Linked DNA regions of Homo sapiens. The protein of the gene in region 1 purifies or fractionates together with the protein of each later gene. This does not show direct contact. Each region holds a gene or a part of one and is shown in the gene's direction. Other genes may lie near its edges.

Region 1 (5,036 bases):
AAGCCAAAGTTTTAAAAACTACGCAGTCCTGAGTGAGCCCATATAATGAAAAGCACATTGGGCTAGGAAGTCTACACAGCTCCTAGGAGGTATAATATACATTCTGGTCTAGTTAAGGAGTGAGGACATTATAATAGGTAACATTTATTGAGTGCTTACTGTAAAGTAGTGTGCTAAGTGCTTTTGAGTAGATTGTCTTTTTTTTTTTTTTTTTTTTTTTTTTTTGAGACAGAGTCTCACTCTGTCACCCAGGCTGGAGTACAGTGGCATGATCTCGGCTCACTGCAACCTCTGCCTCCCAGGTTCAAGTGATTCTCCTGCCTCAGTCTCCCAAGTAGCTGGGACTACCGGCACCCGCCACCATGCCCAGCTAATTTTTGTATTTTTAGTAGAGACAGGGTTTCGCCGTGCTGGCCAGGCTGATCCAGAACTCCTGACCTCAGGTGATCTGCCCACTTTGGCCTCCCAAAGTGCTGGGATTACAGGCATGAGCCACCGCGCCCCGCCTGTAGATTGTCTTTTTTAATGGTCACAATAATCTTATGAGATCATTATCGTTTTTACTCCCATTTCACTGATGAGAAAACTGAGTCAGAGACATGAAGTTATTTGCCCTAAGATCACAGAACTAAGCTTTGAATCCAAGCAACTTGACTCCAAAGACCCTGATTTTTACAGCTTTCTTACATATAAAAAGATACTGGGTAGCATTAGCTGAGGTTCAAATAATGGCTATGGATAAGGGTTGTCAGAGAAAGGTGAGGTCCCCTGAGGATGAAAGTATAAAGGAAGGGACATTTCTAGAAGGGGAAAAAGCAGTAAAGGCCTAGGTTACCATAGTGTGACAGGAGCACTAAGAAACAGATGACTTTGACTGCAGGGGAGGGTTTGTAGCCCTGGAGATTGGAAATTCTAGAAGTCTTGCATATTTCTCCTCCCTTGGTCCCAGTCTTAGAAGGTTGGCCAGGCGCGGTGGCTCACACCTGTAATCCCAGCACTTTGGGAGGCCAAGGTGGGCGGATCATGAGGTCAGGAGTTCAAGACCAGCCTGGCCAACATAGTGAAACCCTGTCTCTACTAAGAATATAAAAAAAATTATCTGGGCATGGTGGCGCGTGTCTGTAGTCCCCGTACTCAGGAGGCTGAGGCAGGAGAATCACTTGAACCCGGGAGGTGAAGGTTGCAGTGAGCTGAGATTGTGCTACTGCACTCCAGCTTGGGCAACAGAGTGAGACTTCATCTCAAAAAAAAAAAAACAAAACTGGGAGTTCATAGGCCTGTGTGTGGGAGGATATTCCATAAACTGATCCATCCTGCACTCTTTTTGCATTGCAGTGTTTCACCTGTCTCGGAAAGTAACATCTCTGGTCCCTGAGAGCTGCCTGCTGATTTTGCTGGGCCTGGTGCTAGGGGGAATTGTTTTGGCTGTGGCCAAGAAAGCTGAGTACCAGCTGGAGCCAGGCACCTTCTTCCTCTTCCTGCTGCCTCCTATTGTGTTGGACTCAGGCTATTTCATGCCTAGCAGGCTGTTCTTTGACAACTTGGGTGCCATCCTCACCTATGCCGTGGTAGGCACACTCTGGAATGCCTTCACAACAGGCGCTGCCCTCTGGGGCTTGCAGCAGGCTGGACTTGTAGGTGAGTGACCCTAAGACCTGGGCTTTGCCAGACCCATCACCCCTCTCCCTTCTCCTCAAGCTCTGGAGGCCCATGCTGGTGTGAGCCATGCCCTGAAAGCTCCATCCTAGGTCCCTCCCTCTGGAGTGCAAGGCAGTGCTCCCGCTGGGGTTCAGGCCTCATTGAGGTCTCTGCCAGTCTGGGCTTCTGCAGCATAACAGCTGAGCAGGAGTCTGGCTCCCAGCTGTATGTGGGCTGCCAAGGCTGGGGAGCCTGTGTTACCATTCTGTTGCCTCCTGCCCTCTGTTACCACATTGCCATTTGCCAGCCCGTCTCCCCTGAGGCATAGCTGTGCATCATTTCTGCAAGGGCCTGCTGTCCTGGCTCTCCCCAGGCCAGGTCTGGGTGGTTTTCTGTTTTTATTATTATTTTTTTTTCTTAACTATATGTTGTCTATAAGAAATTCATTATTTTAAACATTTATTTTTTTAAATAAATAAATAGATATTTAAAAAATAAATATTATAAATCCATCAAATGCTGGCACTACACTGGGTTTTCTCTCCTTACTTATCCCACTGACTCTTCATAGCAACCCTTTTGTGTAGTTTGTCACATTTACACATGAGGAAATAGAACCCCTTGCATTTGTTTGCTATCAGGTCCAAGGTTAGCAGAAGAGGTCCGTGTTTGTTGTTGTTGTTGTTGCTTGTTTTTTTGAGATGGAGTCTCACTCTTGTCCAGGCTAGAGTGCAATGGCATGATCTTGGCTTACTGCAACCTCCACCTCCTGGGTTCAAGCAATTCTCCTGTCTTAGCCTCCTGAGTAGCTGGGATTACAAGCACATGTCACTATGCCCAGCTAATTTTTGTATTTTTAGTAGAGATGGGGTTTCGCCATGTTGGCCAGGCTGGTCTTGAACTGCTGAGCTCAGGTGATCTGCCCACCTCAACCTGTCAAAGTGCTAGGATTATAGGCATGAGCCACCACGCCTGGCCCCAGGTCTGTTTTACTGAGGCTCTTTGCCTTTAGGTTGCCCTCTCTTGCTACCTTCTTTATTTCCTAACCCAAGAAATTCATTCAACCCTGAAGGTTAATGATTCACACTTTTTCCAAGGTATTACAAGAAAACGTTTACAATTGCTACCTGGGACTCTAACCTGGTTTCCCTATTGAGGTAGTGAACTATTTGGGGCAGGAAGGGAAGGGAGGACATCAGATCATAATAACAGTAATAGATAATAATATCTTTTGGGTGCTTACTATATGTTAGGCATTGGCTAAGGAACTTTTTGAGGTAGATATTGTTATTAGTCTCAATTTAGACATGGGGAAACTGGGGCTCATAGAAATTATATGACATATTCAAGTCCGATCTGTGTTGCTTTTCTTACTATATTCAGTTCTCCACACCTGCTGAGAATTGTGTCACATCCCTTTGGCCGGGAACCACAGGTGTGGGAGAAAGCACTCTCTTTTGTTATTCCCCCTAATAAAAATAGTTAGCAGCCAATTTCCATTTGCTGGTAGTTATTATTACTGTTGCTACAGTGCTTTTTCCCTATTTTATTTTATTTATTATTATTTTTTGAGACTGAGTCTCACTGTGTCACCCAGGCTGGAGTGCAGTGGCACAATCTCGGCTCACTGCGGCCTCCGCCTCCCTGGTTCAAGTGATTCTCCTGCCTCAGCCTCCCAAGTAGCTGGGATTACAGGCCTGCACCACTGCGCCTGGCTACTTTTTGTATTTTTAGTAGAGACAGGGTTTCACCATGTTGGCCAGGCTGGTCTTGAACTCCTGACCTCAGGTGATCCAGCCCACCTCGGCCTCCCAAAGTGCTGGGATTACAGGCATGAGTCACTGTACCTGGGCTTTTTCCCTATTCCAAATGGCTGGGTTGAGTTTTGAAACAATCTTGTGAGGCAGGCAGATGAGGAGGCATGGCTAAGGTGAGCCACATGACAGTGACGGACCAGCATCACACAGTTGGTAAGTGGCAAAGCCAGACCTTAGGCATAGGTAGCTTGACTGAAGTCTCCTGATCTGCAGGCTAATGCTGTCTTTGCCATCCCAAGTCCTCTTTGGGCTTCCTTGCTGTTATCAGCAGGGGTGGGGCCTGGGCTTGTTCCAGGGCGTGCTCCAGGAGACTGGGTCGTCTTCAATGACTGGCCTGTCCTACACATGTCCCTTAATAGCCCCTAGGGTGCAGGCTGGCTTACTGGACTTCCTGCTGTTTGGGAGCCTCATCTCGGCGGTGGACCCCGTGGCCGTGCTAGCTGTCTTTGAGGAGGTGCACGTCAATGAGACTCTCTTTATCATCGTCTTTGGCGAGTCCCTGCTCAACGATGCTGTCACCGTGGTGAGCGTGCTCAGCTGACTGCCATTCCCTGACCCCAGGCTGCATGCTCTGACCAACTAGGGGTCTGCGCAGACTCAGTCCCTTCCCTTGGGTCCCCTGGGGCAGAAATATGCTGTCTGCTTTCACCCTGCTCTCCCAGCAGTCTGTCTCCCAGCAGTCCCAGTTGCTGCCTTCCCGCCTCACTGCTGACTCTCCTCTTCTCGCTCAGGTGCTGTACAAGGTCTGCAACTCCTTTGTGGAGATGGGCTCTGCCAATGTGCAGGCCACTGACTACCTGAAGGGAGTCGGTCAGTATTTCCCCGCTCCCAGCTGGCATTGGAGGTCTGCCTCCCCTGGGTTGCTGAGGCCCTCCCACCCCGCATCAGGACAGAAGAGGCTATTCGGGTTGCCTCATCTCCTCTATAGAGAAATGGGGTCTGGGAGGGGCTTGCCAGGGATCCTGGCTCTGGGGTTTTGAGCCCCTGGGAGTGCGGTGGGCATCATCCCTCACTCCCTGCCAGGCAGCAGTCTTGTCAGCCCGGGTAGGGTCCGGGCCAGGGGTCATGCTGACAACCCACTCCTCCCCCAGCCTCCCTGTTTGTGGTCAGTCTGGGCGGGGCAGCCGTGGGCTTAGTCTTTGCCTTCCTCCTGGCCCTGACCACACGCTTCACCAAGCGGGTCCGCATCATCGAGCCGCTGCTGGTCTTCCTCCTCGCCTACGCAGCCTACCTCACTGCTGAAATGGCCTCGCTCTCCGCCATTCTTGCGTGAGTTCTGGGGGCCTTGCAGGCAGATAGCTGGGAGGGGGCACTGGAGATGGTTGCCCCTCATAGGGACACAGGCAGGAACTTCAGGAGTCCATAGGTTTCCCTGAGCCCTTGTGGTAGTGGGAGCCTCAGACTGTCCTGGGGAGTCAGTAAACCTCAGCAATATTTCAGGAGCTGCCCCCAGAGCTGTCCTCAGCACCCTGAAACCCTCTGGGTGTAGGCTGGGCTGGAAGTAGACTTTAAGGCCTGGGGCCACCAGCTCTGGAGGCCGCAGCACTCCAGAAGGTGCATTAGAGAGCCCGCTAGTCAGAG
Region 2 (4,268 bases), on another chromosome or scaffold:
AGCTGGATGTGGTGGCACATGCCTGTAGTCCCAGCCACTCGGGAGGCTAAGGCAGGAGAATTGCTTGAACCCAGGAGGTGAGGTTGCAGTGAGCTGAGATTGCGCCGCTGCACTTCAGCCTAGGTAACAGGGCAAGACTCCATCTCAAAAAATAATAATAATAATTTCCTTGGAAAAAAAATAATAAAATTAAACTAAAATTGCTGGGTGCAGTGGCTCACACCTATAATCCTGGCACTTTGAGAGGCTGAGGTGGGAAGATTGCTTGAGCTCAGGAGTTTTTTTGAGACCCAGTCTCAAAAAAAAAAGAAAAAAAGAAAGTTTTCTTGGCTGGGCACAGTGGCTCAAGCCTGTAATTCCAGCACTTTGGGAGGCTGAGGTGGACGAATCATTTGAGCCCAGGATTTCTAGACGAGCCTGGGCAACATAGTGAAACCTCATCTTTAGAAACAAAAAAAATTAGCCGGGCGTGGTGGCGCATGCCTGTAATCCCATCTACTGGGGAGGCTGAGGCAAGAGAATTGCTTGAACCTGGGAGGCAGAGGTTGCAGTAAGCCAAGATTGCACTGTTGCACTCCAGCGTGGGTGACACAGCAAAACTCTTTCAAGAAAAAAAAAAAAAGAAAGAGTTTTCTGGTCTGGCTCAGTGGCTCATGTTTATAATCCTAGCAGTTTAGGAGGGTGAGGCATGTGGATCACTTGAGTCCAGGAGTTTGAAACCAGCCTGGGCAACATGACAAAGCTCCATCTCTACAAAAAATACAAAAATCGCCGGGCGCGGTGGCTCACGCCTGTAATCCCAGCACTTTGGGAGGCCGAGGCGGGCGGATCACGAGGTCAGGAGATCGAGACCATCCTGGCTAACACGGTGAAACCCTGTCTCCACTAAAAATACAAAAAATTAACCGGGCGTGGTGGCGGGCGCCTGTAGTCCCAGCTACTCGGGAGGCTGAGGCAGGAGAATGGCGGGAACCCCGGGGGGCGGAGCCTACAGTGAGCCGAGATCGCACCACTGCACTCCAGCCTGGGCCACAGCGAGACTCTGTCTCAAAAAAAAATAAAAAAATAAAAAAATTAGCCAGGTATGATGGTACGTACCTGTAGTCCCAGCTACTTGGGAGGCTGAGGTGGGAGGATTGCTTGAGCCCAGGGAGGTTGAGGGTACAATGAGCCATGATCGCGCCACTGCACTCCAGCCTGGGCAACAGAGAGCCCGTCTCAAAAAAAAAAAATTAGGCTGGGCACGGCAGCTCATGCCTGTAATCTCAGCACTTTGGGAGGCCGAGGTGGGTGGATCACCTGAGGTCGGGAGTTCGAGAGCAGCCTGACAAAAATGGAGAAACCCCGTCTCTACTAAAAAATACAAAATTAGCCGGGCCTGGTGGTGCATGCCTATAATCCCAGCTACTCAGGAGGCTAAAGCAGGAGAATTGCTTGAACCCGGGAGGTGGAGGTTGCAGTGAGCCAAGATGGCACCATTGGAATCCAGCCTGGGCAACAAGAGCAAAACTCTGTCTCAAAAAAAAAAAAAATTTGCAAAAATTAGCTGGGTGTGGTGGCGGGCGCCTGTAGTCCCAGCTACTCGGGAGGCTGAGGTGGGAGAATGGCATGAACCTGGGAGGCGGAGCTTGCAGTGAGCTGAGATTGTGCCACTGCACTCCAGCCTGGGTGACAGAGTGAGACTCCAAACAGAGTGAGACTCCGAGCAGAGTGAGACTCTGAGCTCTGTCACCCAGGCTGGAGTGCAGTGGCGCGATCTCGGCTCACTGCAAGCTCCTCTTCCCGGATTCATGCCATTCTCCTGTCTCAGCCTCCCGAGTAGCTGGGACTACAGGTGCCCGCCACCACACCTGGCTAATTTTTTGTTTTTGTATTTTTAGTAGAGACAAGGTTTCACCGTGTTAGCCAGGATGGTCTCGATCGCCTGACCTTGTGATCTGCCGGCCTAGGCCTCCCAAAGTGCTGGGACAGGTGTGAGCCACCGCGCCCGGCCAAAAAAGTTAATTTTCTTATCTTGCACTGAGATCTGTCTCCTTGTAGCAGCAGCCAAATCATCATCAACAAATAATCTGAGAGCATGGGCTTTGAAGCTGTATCCCACCGAGATACAGTGAGAGCTGGAAAGGCCAGTGCCTGTCTCCACAGAGCACTGCTACAGGGCCGACTGACCCCATTCCATTGTGAGCAGAGCTGAGAAGAGGAAATGCAGGCTCTGGATGGAGCCCTCTCACCTGGCCTTGGGGAATCGAGGAATATTTTCTTTTCTTTTTTTTTTGAGATGGAGTCTCGCACTGTCGCCCAGACTGGAGTGCAGTGGTGCGATATCAGCTCACTGCAACCTCCGCCTCCTGGGTTCAAGCAATTCTCCTGCCTCAGCTTCCCGAGTAGCTGGGATTACAGGCCTGCACCACCATGCCTGGCTAATTTTTGTATTATTAGTAGAGACAGAGTTTTGCCATGTTGGCCAGGCTGGTCTCAAACTCCTGACCTCAGGTGATCCATCTGCCTTGGCCTCCCAAAGTGCTGGGATTACAGGCGTGAGCCAACCATGCCCGGCCCAAGGAATGTTTTCTAGAGGAGGTGGTGTCTTGGCCTTGAAGGACTTACACGGGAGTACTTATGGCCAAGTAGACAAGTTGAGGAACGCAGAAGAAACAGCTTGTTAAAAGGCCTAGAAGTCAACTACTCAAGGCCACCCCATATCCTGTCCCCTGGCTAAACACCCCAGATACTTGAGTTGTCCTTTTTTTTTTTTGAGATGGAGTTTTGCTCTTATTGCCCAGGCTGGAGTGCAGTGACACGATCTTATTGCCCAGACTGGAGTGCAGTGGCGCAATCTTGGCTCACTGCAACCTCCGCCTCCCGGGTTCAAGCAATTCTCCTGCCTCAGCCTCTTGAATAGCTGGGATTACAGGCATGTACCACCACACCTGGCGAATTTTTATATTTTCAGTAGAGATGGGATTTCTCCATGTTGGTCAGGCTGGTCTCGAACTTCCGACCTCAGGTGATTTGCCCGCCTTGGCCTCCCAAAGTGCTGGGATTACAGGCGTGAGCCACCTCGCCCCACCTCTTTTTTTTTTTTTTTTGGAGACAGAGTCTTGCTCTGTCGCCCAGGCCGGATTGCAGTGGTGTGATTTCGGCTCACTGCAAGCTCTGCCTCCCGGGTTCACGCCATTCTTCTGCCTCAGCCTCTCGAGTAGCTGGGACTAACTACAGGCGCCCGCCACTGCGCCCGGCTAATTTTTTGTATTTTTAGTAGAGACGAGGTTTCACCATGGTCTTGATCTCCTGACCTCGTGATCTGCCCACCTCGGCCTCCCAAAGTGCTGGGATTACAGGTGTGAGCCACCACGCCCGGCCTTTTTTTTGGGGGGGGTGGGGGACAGAGTCTTGCTTTGTCGCCCAGGCTGGAGTGCAGTGGCATAATCTTGACTCACTGCAACCTCCGCCTCCCAGGTTCAAGCGATTCTCCTGCCTCAGCCTCCCAAGTAGTTGGGATTACAGGCGCCCACCGCCATGCCCGGCTAATATTTGTATTTTTAGTAGAGACAGAGTTTCACCATGTTGGCCAGGCTGGTCTCGAACTCCCGACCTCAGGTGATCCACCTGCCTCAGCCTACCAAAGTGCTGGGATTACAGGTGTGAGCCACCACGCCCGGCCTCAAGTTTTTGTTTTGTTTGTTTTTTTTTGAGCTGGAGTCTTGCTCTGTCGCCCAGGCTGGAGTGCAATGGCACAATATTGGCTCACTGCAACCTCTGCCTCCCGGGTTCAAGTGATTCTCCTGCCTCAGCCTTCCGAGTAGCTGGGATTACAGGTGCCCACCATCATGCCCGGCTGGTTTTTGTATTTTTAGTTGGGATGGGGTTTCGCCATGTTGGTCAGGCTGGGCTTGAACTCCTGACCTCAGGTGATCTGCCTGCCTTGGTCTCCCAAAGTGTTGGGATTACAGGCATGAGCCACTGCGCCCGGCCGAGCTGTTCTTTCTAAGCTTCTCTTTCTACCCTGGACCCCTGCCTTTGTTTACAAGTTCTCTCTGTGTGTAACCCCCAGGCCCAGACTCTCCCTAAATGATACTCTTGGGCCTGCTTCGTGTCCTCAAAAGCTGCTAGATCCCCACTGCTTTCTCTACCCTTTGAGGGACAACCCTCTAGTGACGTGACACATGAACTTACTCCGTTGACAAAACACGTTTCATATCCATTGGGAGAGGTGGGGCAGAGCTGGGACTCACCTCCACTGTTCAGATGGGGAAACTGAGGCCCAG
Region 3 (4,238 bases), on another chromosome or scaffold:
TTATGATCTGTAAAATAAAAACTCAGCTGGGTCCAGATATCAGGTGTTCTAAATCTAAGAATGTAAGAACAATCTTAATAGAAATATGTTTTTAATAAGTGGCTAATATCTACAAATAGTACCTTTGCTAAATGAATTCTTTTTTATGACTATTTTGTTTTTTAGTAATTGGGTGAAAAAACAACTGAAATGAGATTATTTATTATTTTAACATAAGGATTAAAAAAATTTAGAAACTCTTATTTTGAATTGTACTGCAGGCAGAAATTTCGAATTTATATTATTCATTTTCAAGTTAGTCCAAGGATATTGGCATTAAAACTCCACTAGGCGGCCAGGCACAGTGACTTACACCTGTAATCCCAGCACTTTGGGAGGCCAAGGTGGGCGAATCACGAGGCCAAGAGTTTGAGACCAACCTGGCCAACATGGTGAAACCCCATCTCTACTAAAAATACAAAAAAAAATAGCCAGGCGTGGTGGCGGGCGCCTGTAATCCCAGCTACTCGGGAGGCTGAGGGAGGCGAATCACTTGAACCCGGGAGGCAGAGGTTTCAGTGAGTCAAAATCGCACCATTGCACTCCAGCCCAGGCAACAGGGCGAGACTCTGTCTCAAAAAACAAAAAAACCTCAAATAGGCTAAGCAGATCCATTCCCATAATAGTGGATTCTAAAACCGTCCTTAAATAGGCAAATAACTGACTTTTTCAAAACTTTTTTTAGGTGTTGGGTTCACCCTTGAAAGAACTGTCCTCTAACAACTGGTTTTGTCAGTTAAAGCCCTTGAGAATTGACATAGCTATATACCTGGTTGAGCAGGTGATAAAACTTGTAACTAATGTTGTGTCCTGAAAACCTACACAGGGAGGTACTGTTTTCCCTTAGTGTCTACCTGGCTGCTTGGCCTTGTGACTACTGATTCCATTAGAGCAGTGGTTCTCAAAGTATGTGCTCCAAACCAGAAGCATCAGCATCAGCATCAGCATCACCTAGGAATTTGTTAGAAATGCAAATTCTCGAGCCCCAACCCAGACCTACTGAATCAAAAACGTGGGGGATGAGGCCCTGCTTTCTATGTTTTAACAAGCTCTCCAGGAGATTTTGGTGCATGTCAAATTTGAAAGCCACTGCAGTAAAGGATACTGCTACCTTCCATAGTTTATGGACTGAGCTACCTATCTGGCTCCTCCTCTGTGAATAACCACACACACAAATTTTGCCCAAGGCACACAATATATAAAGCAAAACTGTTAGTAATGTACTTTTTAATTATTCCTTAACAAAATAGAATAACCAAACCAAATGCTTCAAAGTAATAGCAACAAGAGAGAAGAAGAGTGGGAATGACCAGAGCTAACAAAACACTCTATTCCTTTCTCTCTTTTTTTTTTTTTTGGAGACAGAATCTCACCCTGTAGCCCAGCCTGGAGTGCAGTGGTGCGATCCCGGCTCACTGCAACCTCTGCCTCACAGGTTTGAAGCAATTTGCCTGCCTCAGCCTCTCGAGTAGCTGGGATTGCAGGTGTGCGCCACCATACCCAGCTAATTTTTGTATTTTTAGTAGAGATGGGTTTCACCATGTTGGCCAGGCTGGTCTTGAACTCCTGACCTCAAGTGATCTGCCCGCCTCCACCTCCCAAAGTGTTGAGATTACAGACGTGAGCCAATGTGCCTGGCCTATTCCCTTCTCTCTTTATGCTACCACAAATAATTACCTTCTGTTTATTGTAAGTGATGCATGTCTAACAATTTGTACAATACATTTTGAATATATTTTTCCTTCCATTATTGTCTTTTCCCAAGACCATAGGGTTGCCTTCTCTACATTTGTTCTCTTAGAATTCAGCTCCCTTTTCCCTATAATCTTCTAATGTAGAATATTTAATAGAATGCCAGAACGTCACTCAGTGGGTACTACTACCTCTTATTTTTCAACTTTTCAGTTTCTTAAGTTTAGCGTTTTTTGAATATGTAAAGTGAATGTATGCGATACATTAATTCGTTTTATAAATTTAAAATTCTGTCATGTCTACTTAAAAGGAAGGCCTTGTCTGAATGTTGTAATTTAGGTGTGACTCCAGTTCTGCTAGAGATAAGAACTTCATTTTTGTTTTAAGCACATTTACATACTAGCAATATGTTGTTATATATACTCAGCTCACAACATTGAAAGTACATGTTTTAAAAGGGCTGTAGGCTTCCATGGTTAGATGGTCTGTTAGAGTCAGAAATCTGAACACTGTCCTTTTATTCACACAGCATGCTTTGAGAGGTTTTAGGAATTCCAGCCCCACAACAGATGCTTGCAATACCTTTTGGGGGGTAAGATTCCTAAGAGAGAAGAAATTAGGTCCCCTCATTTTTACCCTTGGAACAGTGTTTCTAAAACTTTCACATTCAGAACAATCAGCCGGATAGCCTGTTATGACAGATTCTTGAGTTCCATCTGTAGTGTCATGCTGATCCTGGCAGTCAGTGGATCAGAGTTGGAGTAGCATTTATCCACTGTATTAGTATACTTTGTACTTGGTGTTTGTTCAACGCATTACTTTTTTGAATTTTTTTGTTTTTTGAAGACAAGGGCTTGCCCTGGAGTGCAGTGGCATGATCTTGGCTCACTGCAGCCTCGAGCTCCTGGGCTCAACTCAGTCTTCCCACCTCATCCTCTTAAATAGCTGGGACTACAGGCACGTGCTGCTACACCCTGCTATTGTCTGTTTGTTTGTTTGAGACTGAGTTTTGCTCTTGTTGCCCAGGCTGGAGTGCAATGGCACAATCTTGGCTCACCACAGCCTTTTTTATGAGACTGAGTTTTGCTCTTGTTGCCCAGGCTGGAGTGCAATGGCACGATCTTGGCTCACCACAACCTCCACTTCCTGGGTTCAAGCAATTCTTCTGCCTCAGCCTCCCGAGTAGCTGAGATTACAGGCATGCGCCACCATGCCTGGCTAATTTTTTTTTTTTGTATTTTTAGTAGAGATGGGGTTTCACCGTGTTGGTCAGGCTGGTCTTGAACTCCTGACCTCAGGTGATCCACCCCCCTTGGCCTCCCAAAGAGCTGGGATTACAGGCATGAGCCACTGCGCCTAGCCCCACCCCCCCTACTTTTTTTTTTTTTTTTTTTTTAATTTTTTGTGTAGCCAAAAGATCTCACTCTGTTGCCCAGACTGCTCTCAAAACTCCTGGCCTTAAGTGATTCCCCTGCCTCAGTCTCCCAAAGTGCTGGGATTATAGGCATGAGCCACCATGCCTGTCCATTATTTCTTTATAGTGACTATTATATGTAGGCAATGTATAATTGGTAGAACATAGTCTATGAAACAGTGCGTTAATTGTGGGCAGTGAAGAATCATTGAAGTTGTGAAATTTGTATTTTAACTAGATCATTGTAGTATGGCAAAACGGTTAGGAAAGAGAAAGCTATCTTGACTAACTGTTTATGCTATGAGATACTGACTGATGTACATGTACATTTAGTGTTTCTTTAGGTATACCTGACTTATTCATTGAACACCTATCCACTGATCTCAAAAGTATTCCTCAGGGTAGTCTCCATTCCTGTCATTTTTCCTCCTATTCATGAGACGGAAAAATTATGACCATGGTACAGAGTTGTATCAAGGAAATGAAGAACTAGAACATTGAATTGAAAGGTTTTGAAAGGGTTCACAATTTCTTTTCATTTTCTATTAATGTCTTCTTTTAAATTCTCTTAAGAATAAAACTTTTTTCTAATATTTTAAGTCTTCCATTAAATCATTGAAACTCTTCTGAGCTTCGTTTTCCTCATATATAAATGAGATTGAAGCCAAATAATAAAACTTTAAAAATCAATCAAGGGCCAGGTGCAGTGTCTTACACCTGTAATCCCAGAACTTTGGGAGGCCAAGGCAGGTAGATCACCTGAGGTCAGGAGTTTGAGACCAGCCTGACCAACATGGTGAAACCCCGTCTCTACCAAAAATACAAAAAAGTTAGCCGGGTGTGGTGGTGGGTGCCTGTAGTCCCAGCTACTTGGGAGGCTGAGGCATGAGAATCACTTGAACCTTGGAGACAGAGGTGCAGTGAGCTGAAATCCCACACCACTGCACTCCAGCCTGGGCGACAGAGGAAGACTTGGTCTCAAAAACAAAACAAAATCAATTTACCATGTGGGATCCGGGATCCCCATGTATGTTTTCAACCCACATTAGAAATGACCCCCTAAAGCACCTCTGTCAAAACAACCAAACCTGAA
Region 4 (4,268 bases), on another chromosome or scaffold:
TGGGCAGAACACAGTCCTGGAATAGGGCAGAGGCAGGATTTTAGGTGACACTGAGGTTGCCCAAGTCTCATTCCCCTTGGGATCATCTTTGGGGGCTGGAGATTCCCAGCTCCTTTTTCCTCAGAAGAAATCTCTGTGGCTGACATTGGGAATTCCTGGGCCTTGGGAGCAGGTCAATACCTGAAGGAAATGTTCTTTTTCCCTCTCTCCCAATCCCTTCTTCCTGGGGCCTGGCCTCCTGAGTTCTTGAAGTGACCCTGAGACATGACCAGCTCACCTGCTACTGGGGAGGAGATCCCAAGCCCTTGGTCCTTGGAGGGGGTGGGCAGTATGTCTAGGGGTCAGAGGGCGGGGAGCAGACCCAGGGCTTTGAGCTGAAGGCAGTCAGTGCATCTGCTTTCTATCTTCACATCAGACTCGTTCCCCATCCTGTAGAGAGGAGGTTCCTCAACCTCCCTAATCACTGGTGCTGTCGGGCTGCCTTCATCCTGTAACCTCAACCTCCTGGGTGTCAGGTTGTGATTCCATATCCCCAGGCTGTCCCAGGAGCGAAGGGTGGGTGCTGAAGGCAGCTGGTGGTCTTGGGACTCCTCCGTGGGATGGCCTCCAGCCACTGCAGAGAAACAGCTTGAGCAGACCACACTTAGAGGGACACCTGGGGACCTCAGCCTGGCCACCTTCTTGCCTCCAGAGACAGGTAGCCTCTGCACTGTAGACATTTAGATGGCCCAGCAGAGGTGGCCTTGCAGACCAGAGACCCAGAGTGGCCTTGAGTCTGCACAGTGTCCTTCACGCCTTCACCCCTTTACCCCTGGGGTCTTCTGTTCTTCTCTGTGCTGCTTTGATCAGGTTTACTCCTTCAGTGGCTCTCCATGCCTGGAGAACAGGTGCTTATTGCCCAGCCCAGCACTGCAGCGTGGCCTGCACAAGCCCTGCCTGGCTGCTGTCTGCCTTACCTTCCTGGTTGCACCTTGCTGTGCTTCTGCACAGGGATCCTCTGCTCTCATAGCCCTTGGGTGCCTCAGTTCATGCCATTCCTGCCCTGGAGGCTCCTCCTCTAGCTTCTGCCAAAATCATGGCATGCTGGAAGGAACTTAGATAGGACTTCCATAATTTTTTTTTTTTTTTTTTTTGAGATGGAGTTTCGCTCTTGTTGCCCAGGCTGGAGTGCAATGGCACGATCTCTGCTCACCACAACCTCCTCCTCCTGGGTTCAAGCGATTCTCCTGCATCAGCCTCCCGAGTAGCTGGGATTACAGGCATGTGCCACCACACCCAGCTAATTTTTTGTGTGTGTGTGTTTTTAGTAGAGATGGGATTTCTCCATGTTGGTCAGGCTGGTCTCGAACTCCCGACCTCAGGCGATCTGCCCACCTCGGCCTCCCAAAGTGCTGGGATTACAGGCGTGAGCCACCGTGCCCAGCAGGACTTCCAGAATTAATGTTAATGTTTGAGTGATTCATGTGGATCTTGTTAAAATGCAGATTTGGTTCAGTAAACATGCGGTGGGCCTGAGGTTCCGCCTTTCTAACAAGCTCCCAGGTGATGTCCACACCGCTGGTCCACAGATCACATTTTAAGTAGCCAGCCAGCCCTTAGAAATCATTTAGTTCAGTGATTCTCAATCTTGGATGACCATTACAATCATCTGGGGAGTTTTTTGTTTTTTTTTTTTAAAGGTTCACAAGCAGATTGCACTCTCCAATAATTAGCATTATTTTCCAACTTCCCTAAGTGTTCTAATGTGTGCATCTGGGATTGAGAACATCTTCCTTGGAGCCCCCTTCCCCCAAGGATCAGCTCAGGTCCCACGGTTTCTGGAAGCCTGCCTGCTTTGCTTGGCGAGTTTGCCCTTGGATCCCAGTCACTGCCTGAGCAGCATCTTCAGCATTTGTCCTGTGCTGTCTGCTCTGAGGGTCATTGCCGCATGTGTGGTTTTTTCCTCTCTCACTGACCAGTGTCCAGCTCCCCGAGGGCTCGGGTCTTGGATTTGGCCATCTGCAGAGGCCAGACTTTGACACACATTGGAGCTCAGTAAATACTTTGATGGTTGCGTATTTGTTGATTACCCTCTCTTCTTTCTGCCTTCTCCTTTCCCATGTGTTCTTCTCTGTCTCCTGTCCCCTCACCCTTTCTCCTGTTTCCCTCCTCTTCCTCTTCTTATCCTTTCCTCCTTATTGTGTGGCTGGCCCCCTTCTGCCTGTAGGATGACAACTGGGGGGAAACGACGACAGTAGTAACGGGCACCTCAGAGCACAGCATCTCCCATGATGACCTCACACGCATCGCCAAGGACATGGAGGACAGTGTCCCTCTGGACTGCTCCCGTCACCTGGGTGTGGCAGCGGGGGCCACCCTGGCACTGCTGTCTTTCCTCACGCCTCTGGCCTTCCTGCTGCTGCCCCCACTGCTGTGGCGGGAGGAGCTGGAGCCTTGCGGGACGGCCTGCGAGGGCCTCTTCATCTCTGTCGCCTTCAAGCTGCTCATCCTGCTACTGGGCAGCTGGGCTCTGTTCTTCCGCCGGCCCAAGGCCTCGCTGCCCCGCGTCTTTGTGCTGCGTGCCCTGCTTATGGTGCTGGTTTTCCTGCTCGTGGTCTCCTACTGGCTCTTCTATGGTGTGCGCATCCTGGATGCTCGGGAGCGCAGCTACCAGGGCGTGGTGCAGTTCGCCGTGTCGCTGGTGGACGCCCTTCTTTTCGTGCACTACCTGGCCGTGGTCCTGCTGGAGCTGCGCCAGCTCCAGCCTCAGTTCACGCTCAAGGTCGTGCGCTCCACCGACGGCGCCAGCCGCTTCTACAACGTTGGCCATCTCAGGTACTAGCCCACGGCTGGAGAAGGGTTGGGAGGGAAAGGGCATGGGAGGATGTGGAGTGACTGCTAGGGTGGGAGGGTATGATGGTGGGCTGGAGGTGATGGGCTTGGAGGGTTGTGTGGGAGGGAGTTGAGTACTTTGCACCAAGTAGGTTTTCACCAATGTTTGCTGCTTGATAGGCAGGTTCATGTACACGGTCTTGGGGCAAGATCAGTTGGGAGTTATGAGATGGGAATGAATAGGCATTTAGAGGTAGGGAATATTAGAGGGGGATGGACCAAAGGGAAGAAATATGGGGGGGTGCACAAACAGGGGCTTTTTGGAATCCCTTTTCTAGTCCTTTCTGGGAGGCGCAGCTTCTTGTGAGCACTCAGAGTGGCCTGTGAAGTGACCTGGCCAGAGGAGGGATCCCCAGAGAAAGAGATAAGGAGGAGAGTTCTTCAGCTCCCAGTAAACAAGCTACCCCTCGAGGCCACACAGAATATCAGTGGCACGTCCTGGGTCCTGTAGAGGATCTTGGGGGAACGCTGAATGGGGATGAGGTGATCTTTGGCTGGGGACCCAGGCCCAATGCCCTTTCTCTGCTAGGCTTTGGCATGGTGGGGAGGGACTGGCAGGCCCAGCCCTGGGAAAGGCTTGGGAGCCTGGTAAGTAGACCTCAGGCCCGGAGTCAGGCTTCTCGGAAGCAGCTTGTCCCTGTCCTGTGTCCTCTCCTGCCCTGCCAACCTGCCCTAATGTGTCCCTTTCCCCTGTGCCCCTTGGTCTGTCCCTTCTCCCACCCCCTCCTGCCGTCTCCCCCACAGCATCCAGCGCGTGGCAGTGTGGATCCTGGAGAAGTATTACCATGACTTCCCTGTCTACAACCCTGCCCTCCTCAACCTGCCCAAGTCCGTCCTGGCCAAGAAAGTGTCTGGCTTCAAGGTGTATTCCCTCGGAGAGGGTGAGCAGCCCTGCTCCTCTGCCCTTCCCTGTCTCTTCCCAAGCAGGACTCCAAGTTCCCGCCTCTCTTTTACCCTTTGTCCCTTGCTTTTTCCTTTCCTTAGCCCATGTTCTAGCCGCTTCTATTCAGTCATTTCCCTTGACTCCAGGTGGCTGATCTTAGCTGCTCATCCTACTTGCTGTCCCTTTATGCTATGGCATGTCCCCTGATCTGGCTCCTCTGTGTCTCTCATCAGCCCTGGTCTAAGCCCTTTGGCTCTCGGAGCTGCAGAACCCCCTGCACTGGGGAGGAACAACTGCAGGACTCTTGCGCTTCCAGTGCCTTCCTTGTTGCTTTCCTATGGCCTCTCCCAGAGGTGGCCAGGAGGGTTGGGATTAGGAGGTATTGCTGGGTGGTGGGAACAGCTTCTTCTGGACATGTCAGGCTGCTGTCTCCAGAGCTCCTGGAGTGGGAAGAGAGGCCACACTCTGATGTGACCATCTCCTCTATCCTGTTCCTGTGCAGAAAACAGCACCA

The links. Proteins that work in one complex are often made in the same cells at the same time.
Region 2: the proteins of SLC9A5 (region 1) and PKN3 purify together in Homo sapiens (affinity purification with mass spectrometry; one large-scale study listed by BioGRID and IntAct). This does not show direct contact.
Region 3: the proteins of SLC9A5 (region 1) and NUP155 purify together in Homo sapiens (affinity purification with mass spectrometry; one large-scale study listed by BioGRID and IntAct). This does not show direct contact.
Region 4: the proteins of SLC9A5 (region 1) and VANGL2 purify together in Homo sapiens (affinity purification with mass spectrometry; one large-scale study listed by BioGRID and IntAct). This does not show direct contact.

The regions. Positions count from the first base shown.
Region 1 is NC_000016.10:67,251,207-67,256,242, forward strand, and holds part of SLC9A5 (sodium/hydrogen exchanger 5 isoform 1 precursor), read left to right. Parts: intron 1-1,335; coding exon 1,336-1,638; intron 1,639-3,814; coding exon 3,815-3,978; intron 3,979-4,186; coding exon 4,187-4,265; intron 4,266-4,546; coding exon 4,547-4,724; intron 4,725-5,036. UniProt on the Homo sapiens protein: Plasma membrane Na(+)/H(+) antiporter. Mediates the electroneutral exchange of intracellular H(+) ions for extracellular Na(+) in 1:1 stoichiometry, thus regulating intracellular pH homeostasis, in particular in neural tissues.
Region 2 is NC_000009.12:128,708,235-128,712,502, forward strand, and holds part of PKN3 (serine/threonine-protein kinase N3), read left to right. Parts: intron 1-4,268.
Region 3 is NC_000005.10:37,287,637-37,291,874, reverse strand, and holds the end of NUP155 (nuclear pore complex protein Nup155), read left to right. Parts: 3' UTR 1-3,738; downstream 3,739-4,238.
Region 4 is NC_000001.11:160,416,796-160,421,063, forward strand, and holds part of VANGL2 (vang-like protein 2), read left to right. Parts: intron 1-2,206; coding exon 2,207-2,814; intron 2,815-3,149; coding exon of another isoform or gene 3,150-3,198; exon of another isoform or gene 3,199-3,603; intron 3,604-3,615; coding exon 3,616-3,752; intron 3,753-4,256; coding exon 4,257-4,268. UniProt on the Homo sapiens protein: Involved in the control of early morphogenesis and patterning of both axial midline structures and the development of neural plate. Plays a role in the regulation of planar cell polarity, particularly in the orientation of stereociliary bundles in the cochlea.